Linked DNA regions of Homo sapiens. The protein of the gene in region 1 interacts with the protein of each later gene in a biochemical or structural test. Each region holds a gene or a part of one and is shown in the gene's direction. Other genes may lie near its edges.

Region 1 (4,087 bases):
TAATAAATGATTTCACAAGGTTGCAGAATACAAGGTCAATATACAAAAATAAATTATATATCTATAGACCAGCAATGAATATCCCACAAATGAAATTAAGAAAAAAACTCCCATTTATAATGTCATCAAATTAATGAAATACTTAGGAATATATTTAACAAAAGAAGTGCAAGACTTGTACACTGAGAACTATGAAACATTGCTGAAAGAAATTAAAGAAGATTTAAAGAAAGACATCCCCCTGTTCATAGATCAGAAGATTTAATATTGTTAGGTAGCAGTACTCTCCAAATTGATCTACATATTCAGCAGATTCACTACCAAAATGCCAACTGCCTTTTTTGCAGAAATTGACATCCTAATCCTAAAATTAGGTAAAAGGCACCTAATAGCCAAAACAATCTTGAAAAAGAACAAGGTTGGGAGACCCATACTCCCAATTTCAAGGCCTACTACAAATCTACAAATCTTCGGTAATCAAGACAATGTAGTACTGGCATAAGGATACACATATAGATCAATGGAATAGAATCAATAGTGCAAAAACAAATGTTTACTTTTATGGTCAGTTGATTGTCAACAAGGGTAGCAAGATCATTCAATGGGGAAAGAGTAGTCTTTTCAAACAAACTGTGCTTGGACAACTGGACATCCACACATAAAAGAATGCAACTGGACCCCTACCTCACACCATACACAAAAATTAACTCAAAATGGATCATCCTCAATGTAAGAACTAAGGTATAATATTCAAAGGCAAAAAACAGGAGTAAGTCTTCATCATCTTGAGTTAGACAATGGTGTTTCGGATACATGCCAAGAGCACAAGTGAAAAAAAGAAAAAATAAATAAATTGGACTACCTCAAAATTTGAAACTTTTGTGCTACAAACAATGCTTTTAAGAAAGTGAAAAGACAACTGACAGAGTGGGAGAAAATATTTGCAAGTCATATATCTGATAAGTGGCTTGCATCCAGAATACATAACAAAATCCTACAACCCAATAATAAAAAGACAAACAACACAATTTTAAAATGGGCAAAGGATTTGAATAGACATTTCTCAATGCACACAAATGGCCAATATGCACATGAAAAGATGCTCAACATCGTTAGTCATTAGGGAAATGCAAATCAAAACCACAATGAGATGCTACTTCACACTCAGTAGGAGAGCTGTAATAAAAAAGACAGACAATAACAAGTTGTTAGCAAGAATATGGAGGAATTAAAACCCTCATGGCTTGTTGGTGGCAATGTAAAATGATGCAGCTGCTTTGGAAAACAATTTGGCAATTCCTCAAAATGTTAAATATAGAGTTGCCATATGGCCTAACAATCCACTCTTACGTATCTACCCAAGGGAAATAAAAACATACAGTCACACAAAAACTTTTACATGAATGTTCATAGCAGCATTGTTCATAATAGACAAAAGGTAGAAATAACTCAAATGTCCATTAGTGGATGAACAGACAAGCAAAATGGGGCATGTCCATGCAATGAAAAAATCACTGAGCAATTTAAAATAAGTGAAGTCCTGATACATGCTACAACAGGAACAAACCTTGAAAAGTTGCTGAGTGAAAGAAGCCAGACATGAAAGACCATAAATTGTAGGATTTCACTTGTATAAAATGTACGGAAAAGACAAATCTATACAGACAGAAGGTGAACGAGTGGTTACACAGGGCTGGAGGAGCAGGGATTAGAGGGAAATTGAGAGTGGCTAATAAAGGGTGAGGAGCTTCTTTTTGAAATGACGGAAATGATTTTAAATTGATTGTGGTGGTGGTTGCACAGCTCTGTGAATATACTAAAATCATTGAATTGAACATATTAAAAAGGTAACTTGTATGCTATGTGAATTACATCACAATAAAGCTATTTTTAAAAACGAATGACTTAGATCTATATGTATCCATCTAGATAAATCTCAAAAAAAAATGTAGAGGGAGAAAAACATGCTGAAAAAGGAAACGTACAGTATGACACCATTTATGTGAAATTTTAAAACAAAAGCCAATAGTATATATTGTTTAGGGAACTATACATTTTTAGTAAGACATAAAAACTTGGATGGAAAGGGTAGACTCAACCGCAGGATTTTCCCTCTCTGCCCTATAAATAATCTTTTTTAAAATTGATGGCTTAAACTTCCATTGTTTATGTTTAGCATATAAGGAAATATATATTTTTATATTCATAACCCCTTTCTTAGACAAAAGGTAAAATGCTATATATACTTTAGTGTACAGGACTTTTTTTTAACTTAATATATTCTAGAGGTCACTCCAGAGGAGTTGATAGAGCTGTTCCAGTGAGACTGCTTTATTAAGCTTGTTGGGGTTTATGTCTAAAAGGAGGAGGGCCAGAGATGGATGACTACATGGAGACGCTGAAGGATGAAGAGGACGCCTTGTGGGAGAATGTGGAGTGTAACCGGCACATGCTCAGCCGCTATATCAACCCTGCCAAGCTCACGCCCTACCTGCGTCAGTGTAAGGTCATTGATGAGCAGGATGAAGATGAAGTGCTTAATGCCCCTATGCTGCCATCCAAGATCAACCGAGCAGGTAACCTTAGGACCTCTTTGCGGGAGAGGGAGGGCTACCGCACACGGCAACTTCCAGACATACCCTTTGGTAGCTGTACCAAAATGAAGTTGCTCTAGGTCAGGGATTTTTAAACTGGGGTCCGCAGTCCATCACCTACTCATTTGTGTATAGAACTCAAGCTGTCTGTGTATGGAACTCAAAGGATCCATAAACTGGGAGGGGGGAAGAAATGCCATCTTTATTTTACCAACCTCAACTGCAATTCAGCATTGCCCTCAATTGCAAATGTCAGGAAGCCACAAATTACAGGAGTGATTAGTAATTCTTGTGACTTAGGCAACAATGAAAATTACAGATCTCTTCCTATCACTACAGTTACTGCAAATCTCTCAAAATGCCACTTACACTCATCTCTCTTTCAAAATTACAGTACTTATTAGACCTGCCGAGAGGTCTTGTTATTTAATGCATTAATAAAGAAGTATGTTACTGAAACACAAATTTATTTAATATTTGATAACTGGATTTTATTATAATTGGTTTCTTTTGTAATCTGATGTACTTTATCTGTTTAAAAATATTCCGAGAAGGGTTCCACAAGCTTTTCTAGCCTGACTTCTGGAGGGGGGGTTTATCATATTCAGTAAAGGTAATAAATATGGTTTGTGAAGCTTGTTTTAATTTTACATTATGTACATGTGTATACACATGTACTTGTAGAGTTATCTTTGTCTATGGTCACTAGACCACAATGTTAAATGTTTTTCTTTCTATGGATCAGTTTAGAAGGTTTGATAATCACTGTCCCCCAGCGTGGCTGGTGGTAAGTGGCTCATCAGCTGCGACTCTCTGGCATCCATGGCAGACATCAGTAATCAGCATGCTTTCCCACTGAGCTTGGATGTAACTTTGGAATGTTTCTCGAAACAGTACTGCAGGCGGCTTCACCAAACAATCGGGGTTGACATACCATCAAATTTATTTCTTCTGTCCGTCCTAGGGAAAAGGTCGAGTTTTAAGACCTACCTTTCTTCTTCTATATCTCAGAAGAATATCTGAAAATAAAATGTTTAAGGAAGGGCCCAGAAATGTAAGCAATAAGTGGAATCAATAGTATAGAAACTGGGACCTGCTGGGGAAATTACATTTAAGGTGTTTCCAGGTTGTGTAATAATCCCAAAGAAAAACCTAGAACTATCCCTACTTCCTATGATTTTTCCTAGCCTCTCACCCAAAGATTTGTCTTCCTGCTCTCAATCCCAGAGAACCATATATTATTCCATAATTTTTATCGTGCTTCCAACCTCCTTCAGTCATAGAAGACCTGGTGCCTACGTGGTTCATTTTGGCCCTGGTCAGTTGGGAAACTCTTCAAAACTGGGGCGGCAATTCCATTTATCCTGGTTCTACCAGTTTATTAGAAACAGAAAACTAACGCTCACCAAATCCCTGCGGAGGGCCTGGCACCTTGATTTACGTCATCTGGGCTCCAAGATACAACTCAGAAGTGATAGAATGTGGGGAGACTG
Region 2 (3,793 bases), on another chromosome or scaffold:
TTTATAGAAAACTATTATGAAATCCCTGCATACATAAGGATTTGTTTCTAAAGTCAGTAGAATGTAAAGTTAATCTATTCAAGAGTAAGCTCTGAAAATACTGTACATCACACATAAAGAACAGTATTTAGGCAAAGTATTGTAAAAGTCCAACTCTGCTAGTTTTTCTTATGATCACCAGTTGATCACAAGATGAAGTAATTGGCATATGTTTATAGGAATCACGTTGCATAAAATATTCATGACTTTAAACTAGTCTGGCAAGATGTGAAAGCATGGAAACAGATTAAGAGAATAGCAGATTCACCTGTCCCATTTCACTCTCACTCCAGAATATACACTCACTGATTGGAATATTGTGTGGAATTGCCTACACAATTTAAATCCCCAACCCCCTCCTGCCTCTGTTCCTCACTGTCTCTCTCCAGAGCACATAAATGTGCATGTGATGTTCTACAGCTCTTCTAGGCATTAGGGATACAGAAAAGAATAATTTAGGGCTCTGCCCTTAAGGAACTCATAGTCTATAAGTGTCCCCTTGCTGGGACACATTACAAGTTTTCCCTTTTGAGCCATATCTAAGAAAGTAGTTTGTATAGCATGGAATAGACATGCTGACTGTACTGTGAGGTTGAAAAACTAGTGGAAGAAGTGACATGTAAGTGCCCTTTATAGACTATGCAGGTTTTGCCTAAAAATTGTCAACTCAGGGTTTCTGTGCCTGTAGGTTGAATATTTGCTAAGCCTAACAGAAGGGTAAATTGTGTTTGTGTTTATTCTTTCAATCCTCTGGATAATGGTTAACTATACCCTTTGGATATCATAAAATTCTTTGATGGTATCTAAGTTGTTTTCTGCTGTAGCAATACCTGAGACTGGGTAACTTTTAAAGAAAAGAAATGTATTCATTTCTTACAGTTCTGGAGGCTGGTTAAGTCCAAGACCATGGCGCCAGCATCTGGCAAGGGTCATGCATGGTGGAAGGGCAGAAGATGGAAGAGCAAGGGAGGGCAAGAGTGTGAAAGAGAAGAAAAAGGAGTCGAACTCCCAAAATAACTAACCCATTCCCGTGATAATGGCATTAGTCCAGGGCAGAGCCCTCATGACCCTGTTGCCTCCCAAAGGCCTCAGCTCCTAACACTGCTGCAGTGGCAACCAAGTTTCCAACATGTGAACTTTTGGCGGATACATTCGTACCACAGCTAATGGGAACAACCACTGTCATTTGAGTAAACTGTGAGGTTGAGAAACAGGACATTATCTATTGAATTGTAGTTCTCACTTTCCCACAAAGTAGTCCTGGAATGTTGGACATGACTTAACTGTCCTGTGCCTTTTTTTTCTCTTTTTTTTTTTTTTTTTTTGAGACGGAGTCTTGCTCTTGTCACCCAGGCTGGAGTGCAATGGCATGATCTCAGCTCACTGCAACCTCTGCCTCCCAGGTTCAAGCGATTCTCCTACTTCAGCCTCCTGAGTAGCTGCGATTGCAGGCACCTGCCACCACGCCTGGCTAATTTCTGTATTTTTAGTAGAGATGGGGTTTCGCCATGTTGGCCAGGCTGATCTCAAACTCCTGACCTCATGATCTGCCCACTTCGGCCTCCCAAAGTGCTGGGATTACAGGCGTGAGCCACCATGCCCCGCCCTTTTTTCTCGTCTTTAATAATAAGAGACTATCCTAGGTGACCTCTAAAATTCCTTTTAGTTCTAATATCCTATTATTCAAGAATTAGCCATTGTCATTGATCAACAGATAGAATTTTAGCATCTGCCGTTTACATTTTTTTATTAGCTAATATTTTTTGTACCAGAATACTAAAGAATATTTATTGTGAAAGCTATTTCTTATTTTATAAAAAATTTTAGGTGGTTAAGTTTATATGTACGCTGTACCTTAAATGAGAATTACAGCATGTCGTTTAACTTCCACGAGACTATTTTGTTATATAGAAAATGCAAATAATAGTATACTTCATGGTTGTTGAGAAAAGCAAATTAGATTTGAAATAGATTATGACGGAAATTACAAGTTGCTATTTAAATTTTGATTGTGGGGTAACTAGCTTGTAATCTTTAACAAGTCACAAGATGGACAGTGACTCCATTTTTTTAGTTACTTTTTCATTTACATCTGAATAATTTTATTGTAGGACTAAAATGTAGCAGTTGTGAACCTTTTCCAGATGGAGCCACGAACAACCTCTCCAGATCAAATTCAGATGAGAGTAATTTCTCTGAAAAACTGAGGGCATCCACTGTCATGTACCATCCAGAAGGAGAATCCAGCACGACGCCCTTTTTTTCTACTAATTCTTCTCTGAATTTGCCTGTTCTAGAAGTAGGCAGAACTGAAAATACCATCTTCTCTTCAACTACACTTCCCAGACCTGGGGACCCAGGGGCTCCTCCTTTGCCACCAGATCTACAGTTAGAAGAAGAAGGAACTTGTGCAAACTCTAGTGAGATGTTTCTTCCCTTAAGATCACGTACTGTTTCACGACAATGACACTTTATTGCCTTTTAATTTTTAATGATGACAAAAAATGTTTTAAAGAATATGACTTTTTATAAAATGGCTGTAATCATTTGTTTACATTTGATGCATGTCTTTTAAAATGCAATGTAAGCATACTTTGTAAATAGGATTTTTAGAATTAAAAAAGCATACTTCTAGGATAGCTAACTGTAAATCATGTTGATCATGTACTTTTTAGTAATTTCTTTTTTTCCTTTTTAAGGTCTTTCAGTACTTTTTTAAATATTTTCTATTTTAAGACTGATTTTAATAGGGAATATATCTCTATTTGAGAATAGACCCTTACTAGGAAGAACGTTTTTTCCTCAGTGCATTTGTGCTAGAAATTTTCAAGAGTCTAATAGTCTTTGCCAGTCATTCAGCAGCAAATTTTCAGCATTAAGCTGTTCCTGTTCAGTAATAAAACCGGTCACTGATGGGAAAACTGCCAATATAGAAAAATAAAAATCTCTTTTCCACTCCATTGTCGTATAGGCATGTAAACAGCCTCTTTTTGATACTGGAGGAACACTTGATGGAGTGTGAGCCACCTAAGATCTCGGTTTGCCAAAATTCATTTCTAATTAACCTTACTAATTATACTACTTTGTTAGGATTTTCACATTCTTGGCTTAATCATTTTCATTCCTAAAGAAAAATATCTTGGCCTAAACCTCAGTTATTACATGTAATTTGATGAGGTATTTTTTCCTTTTTTCTTTTTTTTTTTTTTTTTTTTTTGAGACAGTCTTGCTCTATCGCCCAGGCTGGAGTGCAGTGGCGCATTCTAGGCTCACTGCAACTTCTGCCTCCCATGCTTACGTGATCCTCTCACCTCAGCCTCTCAAGTAATATAGCTGAGACTACAAGTGTGTGCCACCATGCCTCACTAATTTTTGTATTATTTTTGTAGAGACGGTGTTTTGCCATGTTGGCCAGGCTGGTCTTGAACTCCTGGACTCAAGCAACCTACCCAGCGTGGCCTCCCAAAGTGCTGGGATTACAGACACGAGCCACCTCACCTAGCCTGATGAGATTTTTAAAAAATATTTTCTCTGTACTTTTCATTCTCTTTTAATGAGGACCAATGTACAGTTGAAATAACTGGAACAAATTATTTTTGGTGTGTGTGACAATTCTGTTTTTAATGCTATTTGAACAAGTGGGCCATTAGCCAGATTTGTCTTTTTGTTGTAAAACAAAATTTGACTAATTTTACATGTTTATAAATCTTATGCTCTCACTGTTTGTTTTTATTTAAATTACAATTTTATCTGT
Region 3 (3,329 bases), on another chromosome or scaffold:
AATATTGGTCTAAGCCCTTAAAATGTATTAACTTATTTAACCCTATGAACGAAGTATTTCAATCCTCCCCATTTTCCAGAAGAGGATACTGAGGCACAGAGAGGTATAAAGCTAAGAACTGGCCCAAGTGTCTTTGACTCAAGAGCCTGTATCACCTTTTGTAAAATACATATGAATCACGACAGAGCCACTTTAGCATACCATTCAAAATTAACTCAGAATGACAAAGAAAGTCAGTACTGCAGTATTTCAGAAACCATTACATTTTTCTCAAATAAGGCAGTAAGCAGTGCCAGATGGGCTAGATAGGGGAACAGGAATAGAAAGATGGAATCGAAAGCCTTTTTGTTTCTTAAAACACAGCCAAGCCACAAAGTAGGTGGTCTTTTCCTTCCTCTTAAAAATAAACAAAGAAAATAAAGGGTTAATTTATTTCTGGTATCCTTTCACATACAACTAATGATGTGGTTATTTCTGGTATGTATTTTTGAGATCTGCCATCACTACTTCTGAATTGTTCAGAATAGCCGGCTTCATTTGGGCCAGGAAATGATTCTGGTCCCAATTAGAAAGGACCTCATGTTCTTATATACAAAAAACAGTGGCTTAATTGTTTTGAGTACCAGGCACCTGAAGTAAAACAAGTACTAACCTCAGTCAGGATTTTGCAAACAGGTATTAACTAGAACTTAGGGATAACCATGCCAGTGACTCAGACTTCTTTCCACTGCTGTCCTTCCTCCTCAAATGGTTCACTTGGGCTATGTGCCTGGCACTGTGGGTGTGTCATAAAGATCTGTTTATGAAAGCCACTTCCTAAATACTTTTCTAAAATGTATTTATAAACCATCTTTAAAAGGTGGCCTTAATTTATTTTCTTCCTTATTATGTATTGAGTATTTTCATTAAAAATAAAATCATTTGGGCGAGGCGTGGTGGCTCACGCCTGTAATCCCAGCACTTCGGGAGGCCGAGGTGGGCGGATCACGAGGTCAGGAGATCGAGACCATCCTGGCTAACAGGGTGAAACCCCATCTCTACTAAAAATACAAAAAAAAAAAAAATTAGCCGGGCATGGTGGCGGGCGCCTGTAGTCCCAGCTACTCGGGAGGCTGAGGCAGGAGAATGGTGTGAACCCAGGAGGTGGAGCTTGCAGTGAGCCAAGATCGCTCCACTGCACTCCAGCCTGGGTGACAGAGTGAGACTCCATCTCAAAAAAAATAAAAATAAAAAATAAAATCATTTGAAAAACCTATAATGCTATTAAAATTCTTTATCAGATACTATAGCTGGAATTTCAAATGTCTAAATCTCCTAACAACGTACATGTCCACGCTACAGTTTCAGCATATGTTGAGTTTTAAAAAGAATTAAGTGGGCAACTGCTTTCTTTATGCCCTGTATCAACACCACCCATGCATATCACTCAGACCAGTCTTCAAGGCCTGGTGGGAGCTTTTCTCCTCCAGCCTACAGCATCCTCATCTGCTTGGGGGCTGGAGAAGGGGGATACTCAGATGTGTTCTTGGCTCCTACTCTAAAGGGAAGCCTTTTGTTTACTTACTTTCTTTCGCTCAATCCTGGTTTTGCCTTTTTTCCTTAGGCTTTGTTATTTGGTTCTCTACTGCACAGAAATAGATAGAATTCTGACAGCCATCATTGTTAAACATCAGGATTTTCTAAGAGGACAGACTTAACAGTAACATCATGGCCTCAGCAGGACTCCAGCTCCTTGCTTTCATCCTGGCCTTATCTGGGGTCTCTGGAGTGCTCACAGCCACTCTGCTGCCCAACTGGAAGGTGAATGTGGATGTGGACTCCAACATCATAACAGCCATTGTACAGCTGCACGGGCTCTGGATGGACTGTACGTGGTACAGCACTGGGATGTTCAGCTGTGCCCTGAAACACTCCATTCTGTCCCTCCCCATCCACGTGCAGGCTGCGAGAGCCACCATGGTCCTGGCGTGTGTTCTGTCTGCTTTGGGGATCTGCACTTCCACAGTAGGAATGAAATGTACTCGCTTAGGAGGGGACAGAGAAACCAAGAGCCATGCTTCCTTTGCTGGAGGAGTCTGTTTCATGTCTGCAGGAATCTCTAGTTTAATCTCGACAGTGTGGTACACAAAGGAGATCATAGCAAACTTTCTGGATCTGACAGTTCCAGAAAGCAACAAACATGAACCTGGAGGAGCTATCTATATCGGATTCATTTCTGCAATGCTGTTGTTTATCTCTGGCATGATTTTCTGCACCTCCTGTATAAAAAGGAATCCAGAAGCTAGACTCGACCCACCCACACAGCAGCCTATCTCTAACACACAGCTCGAGAACAATTCCACACACAATCTGAAGGATTATGTGTAAATAACTGAGTAATGCATATGAAATGGAACTTTTGGGTGCCAAATGGGACTTTTAGATTAAAAAAAAATCAGAATTATGCTTAACTTTCCCTACAAAGAAAGTAGAATGTAAAATACTTTAACAACTACAAAGTAGTTTAAAATGCCAATAAAACTATCATATACAATTACATCTGTCTGAAGAGTTCTTTATTTTTTCCATTATTGTTTCCATGTTTTACTTAAAGATTTATAATTGAAAGAGGTTCTGATTACATTCATAAGGCAATTATTTGATAGCTTTTTCAAGATAATTTGCTGATACACCTTTCAAACTGGATTTTATAAAAGAACTAAACTGCCAAGTATAAAAAGTACCTTGCCCTGGTGTTAACCAAGAATATTATCCACTTTGCTATCTGGTTGGCAACAACACAGCAACTTGCTTCTGTTTTAAAGCTACAGTGTGTGAAAGTACATTAGGAATACAAGAGCTGCCTACTCCATTCAGATGCTGCTAAAACCATCCATCCCAAGTCCCCACCTCCTGTGACCAGCCCATTTCTTTTTCATTTTAGAAAACTATCTACATATATTTGTAAGAGCTGACAATATTATATGCAAACTAAGATTAGGCAGAACTGAAGAAATTGGTAAATGCTACCACAGTAAAGAAAGCCAAACCAAACTAAAATCTCTAGGACTCTTAAAGCATTAAGTACAAGCTAAGTGATAAGAACAAAAGTTTGTTTTAAAATGTTTAAGAACTCCCTTCTTCTGCTTCTAGCAAGAGGATTCTCCACAGATTAAGTTCATTTATCCTATCACATTCTGGATTTACTACCATCCCACTTCCTCTCTCATTTATTCATATTTGGATGATAAAAGTTACCTTTGTCACTTTTTCTCTCAAATTTCATTCATGTTAACAAAAACATTCTTACAAATAAGCTGTTTCAATTAATGAATGTCAAAATATATTTT
Region 4 (3,218 bases), on another chromosome or scaffold:
CAGAGCCATCTGCGACACCACCAACAGGCGTTCTCAGCCTCCGGATGACACAAATACCAGAGCACAGATTCAAGTGCAATCCATGTATCTGTATGGGTCATTCTCACCTGAATTCGAGACAGGCAGAATCAGTAGCTGGAGAGAGAGTTCTCACATTTAATATCCTGCCTTTTACCTTCAGTAAACACCATGAAGATGCCATTGACAAGGTGTTTCTCTGTAAAATGAACTGCAGTGGGTTCTCCAAACTAGATTCATGGCTTTAACAGTAATGTTCTTATTTAAATTTTCAGAAAGCATCTATTCCCAAAGAACCCCAGGCAATAGTCAAAAACATTTGTTTATCCTTAAGAATTCCATCTATATAAATCGCATTAATGAAATACCAACTATGCGTAAATCAACTTGTCACAAAGTGAGAAATTATGAAAGTTAATTTGAATGTTGAATGTTTGAATTACAGGGAAGAAATCAAGTTAATGTACTTTCATTCCCTTTCATGATTTGCAACTTTAGAAAGAAATTGTTTTTCTGAAAGTATCACCAAAAAATCTATAGTTTGATTCTGAGTATTCATTTTGCAACTTGGAGATTTTGCTAATACATTTGGCTCCACTGTAAATTTAATAGATAAAGTGCCTATAAAGGAAACACGTTTAGAAATGATTTCAAAATGATATTCAATCTTAACAAAAGTGAACATTATTAAATCAGAATCTTTAAAGAGGAGCCTTTCCAGAACTACCAAAATGAAGACACGCCCGACTCTCTCCATCAGAAGGGTTTATACCCCTTTGGCACACCCTCTCTGTCCAATCTGCAAGTCCCAGGGAGCTCTGCATACCAGGGGTTCCCCAGGAGAGACCTTCTCTTAGGACAGTAAACTCACTAGAATATTCCTTATGTTGACATGGATTGGATTTCAGTTCAATCAAACTTTCAGCTTTTTTTTCAGCCATTCACAACACAATCAAAAGATTAACAACACTGCATGCGGCAAACCGCATGCTCTTACCCACACTACGCAGAAGAGAAAGTACAACCACTATCTTTTGTTCTACCTGTATTGTCTGACTTCTCAGGAAGATCGTGAACATAACTGAGGGCATGAGTCTCACTAGCACATGGAGGCCCTTTTGGATTTAGAGACTGTAAATTATTAAATCGGCAACAGGGCTTCTCTTTTTAGATGTAGCACTGAAATCCTTGCTGGAGGGAAGAGAGGGGATGAACTCAAGTTTTCCACATCCTGGGACACCTGTCCCTCTTTTCCTAACTGCCTAAGATAACCCATTTCTTCCAACCATCTGAGGACAGTCCCGTCGTCTCAGAGGCCCTGCACCGGGGAGAGACTGGGCTCTGCAGCAGCCACATCAGCATTCACAGCTTCATGTGGCTTCACTGTCTGAAAATCTACCGACTCCAACATGGCCCCACGGTGACAACAGACCTGTGACAGGAAGCCCAAAGCTCACATAGAAATGGTGGACAGATCAAAGTCTCTATAGTAAGGGAAAAAAAGAGAGGTGGCAGGCATGAGCCCCCTGCACCCAGTGGCTCGTGTCCATACTGAGTCCAGACCCTGATCAAGGCCTGACTTAGTGTCACTGGCAGTCCCACTAAATTACACTTCCTTACACTGGCCCGATGCGACAAATCAGGTGGCTCCCTTCTGTCACGTGGAGCACACAGTGTTTTCCATCATCCATAGCTTTCTTCCTGATGGTGTTTGCATTATTGCGCCTTCCCAATCTGCATGCTGCGTTGGGCTTGCGGTGCCTGAACAAGGTTTGCTCCCATGAGCTCAGGCACCCTAGGATCCCCTGTTAGACTATTAGGCTGTCCAGCATGGTCTCCTTTCCCTTCTTGGTGGTGGTCTTTTCCCTTTCCAGAATAGAACAGTGATTCTTAAAATAAGTTAGAGCAGGCCGGGCGCGGTGGCTCATGCCTGTAATCCCAGCACTTTGGGAGGCCGAGGTGGGTGGATCACGAGGTCAGGAGTTCAAGACCAGCCTGGCCAAGATGATGAAACCCCGTCTCTATTAAAAATACAAAAATTAGCTGGGCGTGGTGGCAGGCACCTGTAATCCCAGCTTCCTGGGAGGCTGAGGCAGGAGAATCACTTGAACCCGGGGGGCAGAGGTTGCAGTGAGCCGAGATCACGCCACTGAACTCCAGCCTGGGCAACAGAGTGAGACTCTGTCTCAAAAAAAAAAAAAAAACAAAAACAAAAAAGCAAGATCATCCACTACACATGAACATGAATCACAGTATTATTTGCACAGGAAGGGTGTAACAAAATATGAATGTATCAAAAAATAGAAATAAAGTCTTTGCAGAAAAAGTCTGTTTTTCTCTGAAGTGTGTTGAGATTATCTGACAACTCTAAGATTGTACTTAAATTGTCAATAAAGCATCAAAAGAGCTTCTGAGTCTGTCTTTGAAGATACATTTTCAATCAATGTGAAGGGTGACGGAGGGAATCACAGGCTGTATTACTCCATGGGCCTCACTTGTGGCCTGGAGGAATTACCTGGTGATGAAATAGCCATTCAGTGACCTGGAGGAATTACCTGGTGATGAAATAGCCATTCTCATATCAACTCCAAGCTCCAGATTACCGCTGGCTGTTTCTCTTTGTTAAATAAGAGTAGTTTTTTAAGGCTATCAAAATTTGAAAGGGTTCCAAAAAGCAAACCCTCATTCATAAAAATCTAAAAGTTACTTTCCTGCCTTACTAGCAAACTTTTCTAATAAAAGTGTTTAAAAGAGAAGTTTGCATTGGAAAAGACTATCTATAAGGATTTTTTCTCATGTCATTCTAGAAAATTTCAGTGACTTTGCATTGCTGTCAATGTGGGTGTGTTGACGCTGCATTTTCAAAGAACTGCTTTAGTGGCCATGCATTGTTTATTTCACAATGAGCCCATGGTGGAGGGATCTGGAATGGAACATTCCGAGATAGGGCCTGCACAACATTAGGCAAAGAAGTACACACTGAGGTCCTCTGGGTGCCAGTAGCCACAGGAAACACTCCGAGGATATGCAAAGGTCATGGGAATGGTGGCCCAGGTGATGATAGAGCAAAAGGGGGCAGAGAAAGTGGGTGAGCTCTGGGTGCCAGGGTGGGAACCCCACCTCCAAAACGCACCTGTGTAAGAGCTTCGGGGACAATAATAGCATGCACCACGTTAGGTTGTTGTCACAACTAATTAATT

What was found.
Region 2: the proteins of CARD11 (region 1) and BCL10 form a complex in vitro, tested with the Homo sapiens proteins (2 studies listed by BioGRID, with this or other methods).
Region 3: the proteins of CARD11 (region 1) and CLDN20 interact in a test that uses a peptide from one of them, tested with the Homo sapiens proteins (one large-scale study listed by IntAct).
Region 4: the proteins of CARD11 (region 1) and PRKN interact in a test that uses a peptide from one of them, tested with the Homo sapiens proteins (one large-scale study listed by IntAct).

Annotation. Positions count from the first base shown.
Region 1 is NC_000007.14:2,946,064-2,950,150, reverse strand, and holds part of CARD11 (caspase recruitment domain-containing protein 11), read left to right. Parts: intron 1-2,363; coding exon 2,364-2,576; intron 2,577-3,063; exon of another isoform or gene 3,064-3,554; intron 3,555-4,087. UniProt on the Homo sapiens protein: Adapter protein that plays a key role in adaptive immune response by transducing the activation of NF-kappa-B downstream of T-cell receptor (TCR) and B-cell receptor (BCR) engagement.
Region 2 is NC_000001.11:85,266,340-85,270,132, reverse strand, and holds part of BCL10 (B-cell lymphoma/leukemia 10), read left to right. Parts: intron 1-2,150; coding exon 2,151-2,506; 3' UTR 2,507-3,793. UniProt on the Homo sapiens protein: Plays a key role in both adaptive and innate immune signaling by bridging CARD domain-containing proteins to immune activation.
Region 3 is NC_000006.12:155,274,013-155,277,341, forward strand, and holds the end of CLDN20 (claudin-20 precursor), read left to right. Parts: intron 1-1,603; 5' UTR 1,604-1,707; coding exon 1,708-2,367; 3' UTR 2,368-2,536; downstream 2,537-3,329. UniProt on the Homo sapiens protein: Plays a major role in tight junction-specific obliteration of the intercellular space, through calcium-independent cell-adhesion activity.
Region 4 is NC_000006.12:161,346,624-161,349,841, reverse strand, and holds the end of PRKN (E3 ubiquitin-protein ligase parkin), read left to right. Parts: 3' UTR 1-2,425; downstream 2,426-3,218. UniProt on the Homo sapiens protein: Functions within a multiprotein E3 ubiquitin ligase complex, catalyzing the covalent attachment of ubiquitin moieties onto substrate proteins. Substrates include SYT11 and VDAC1.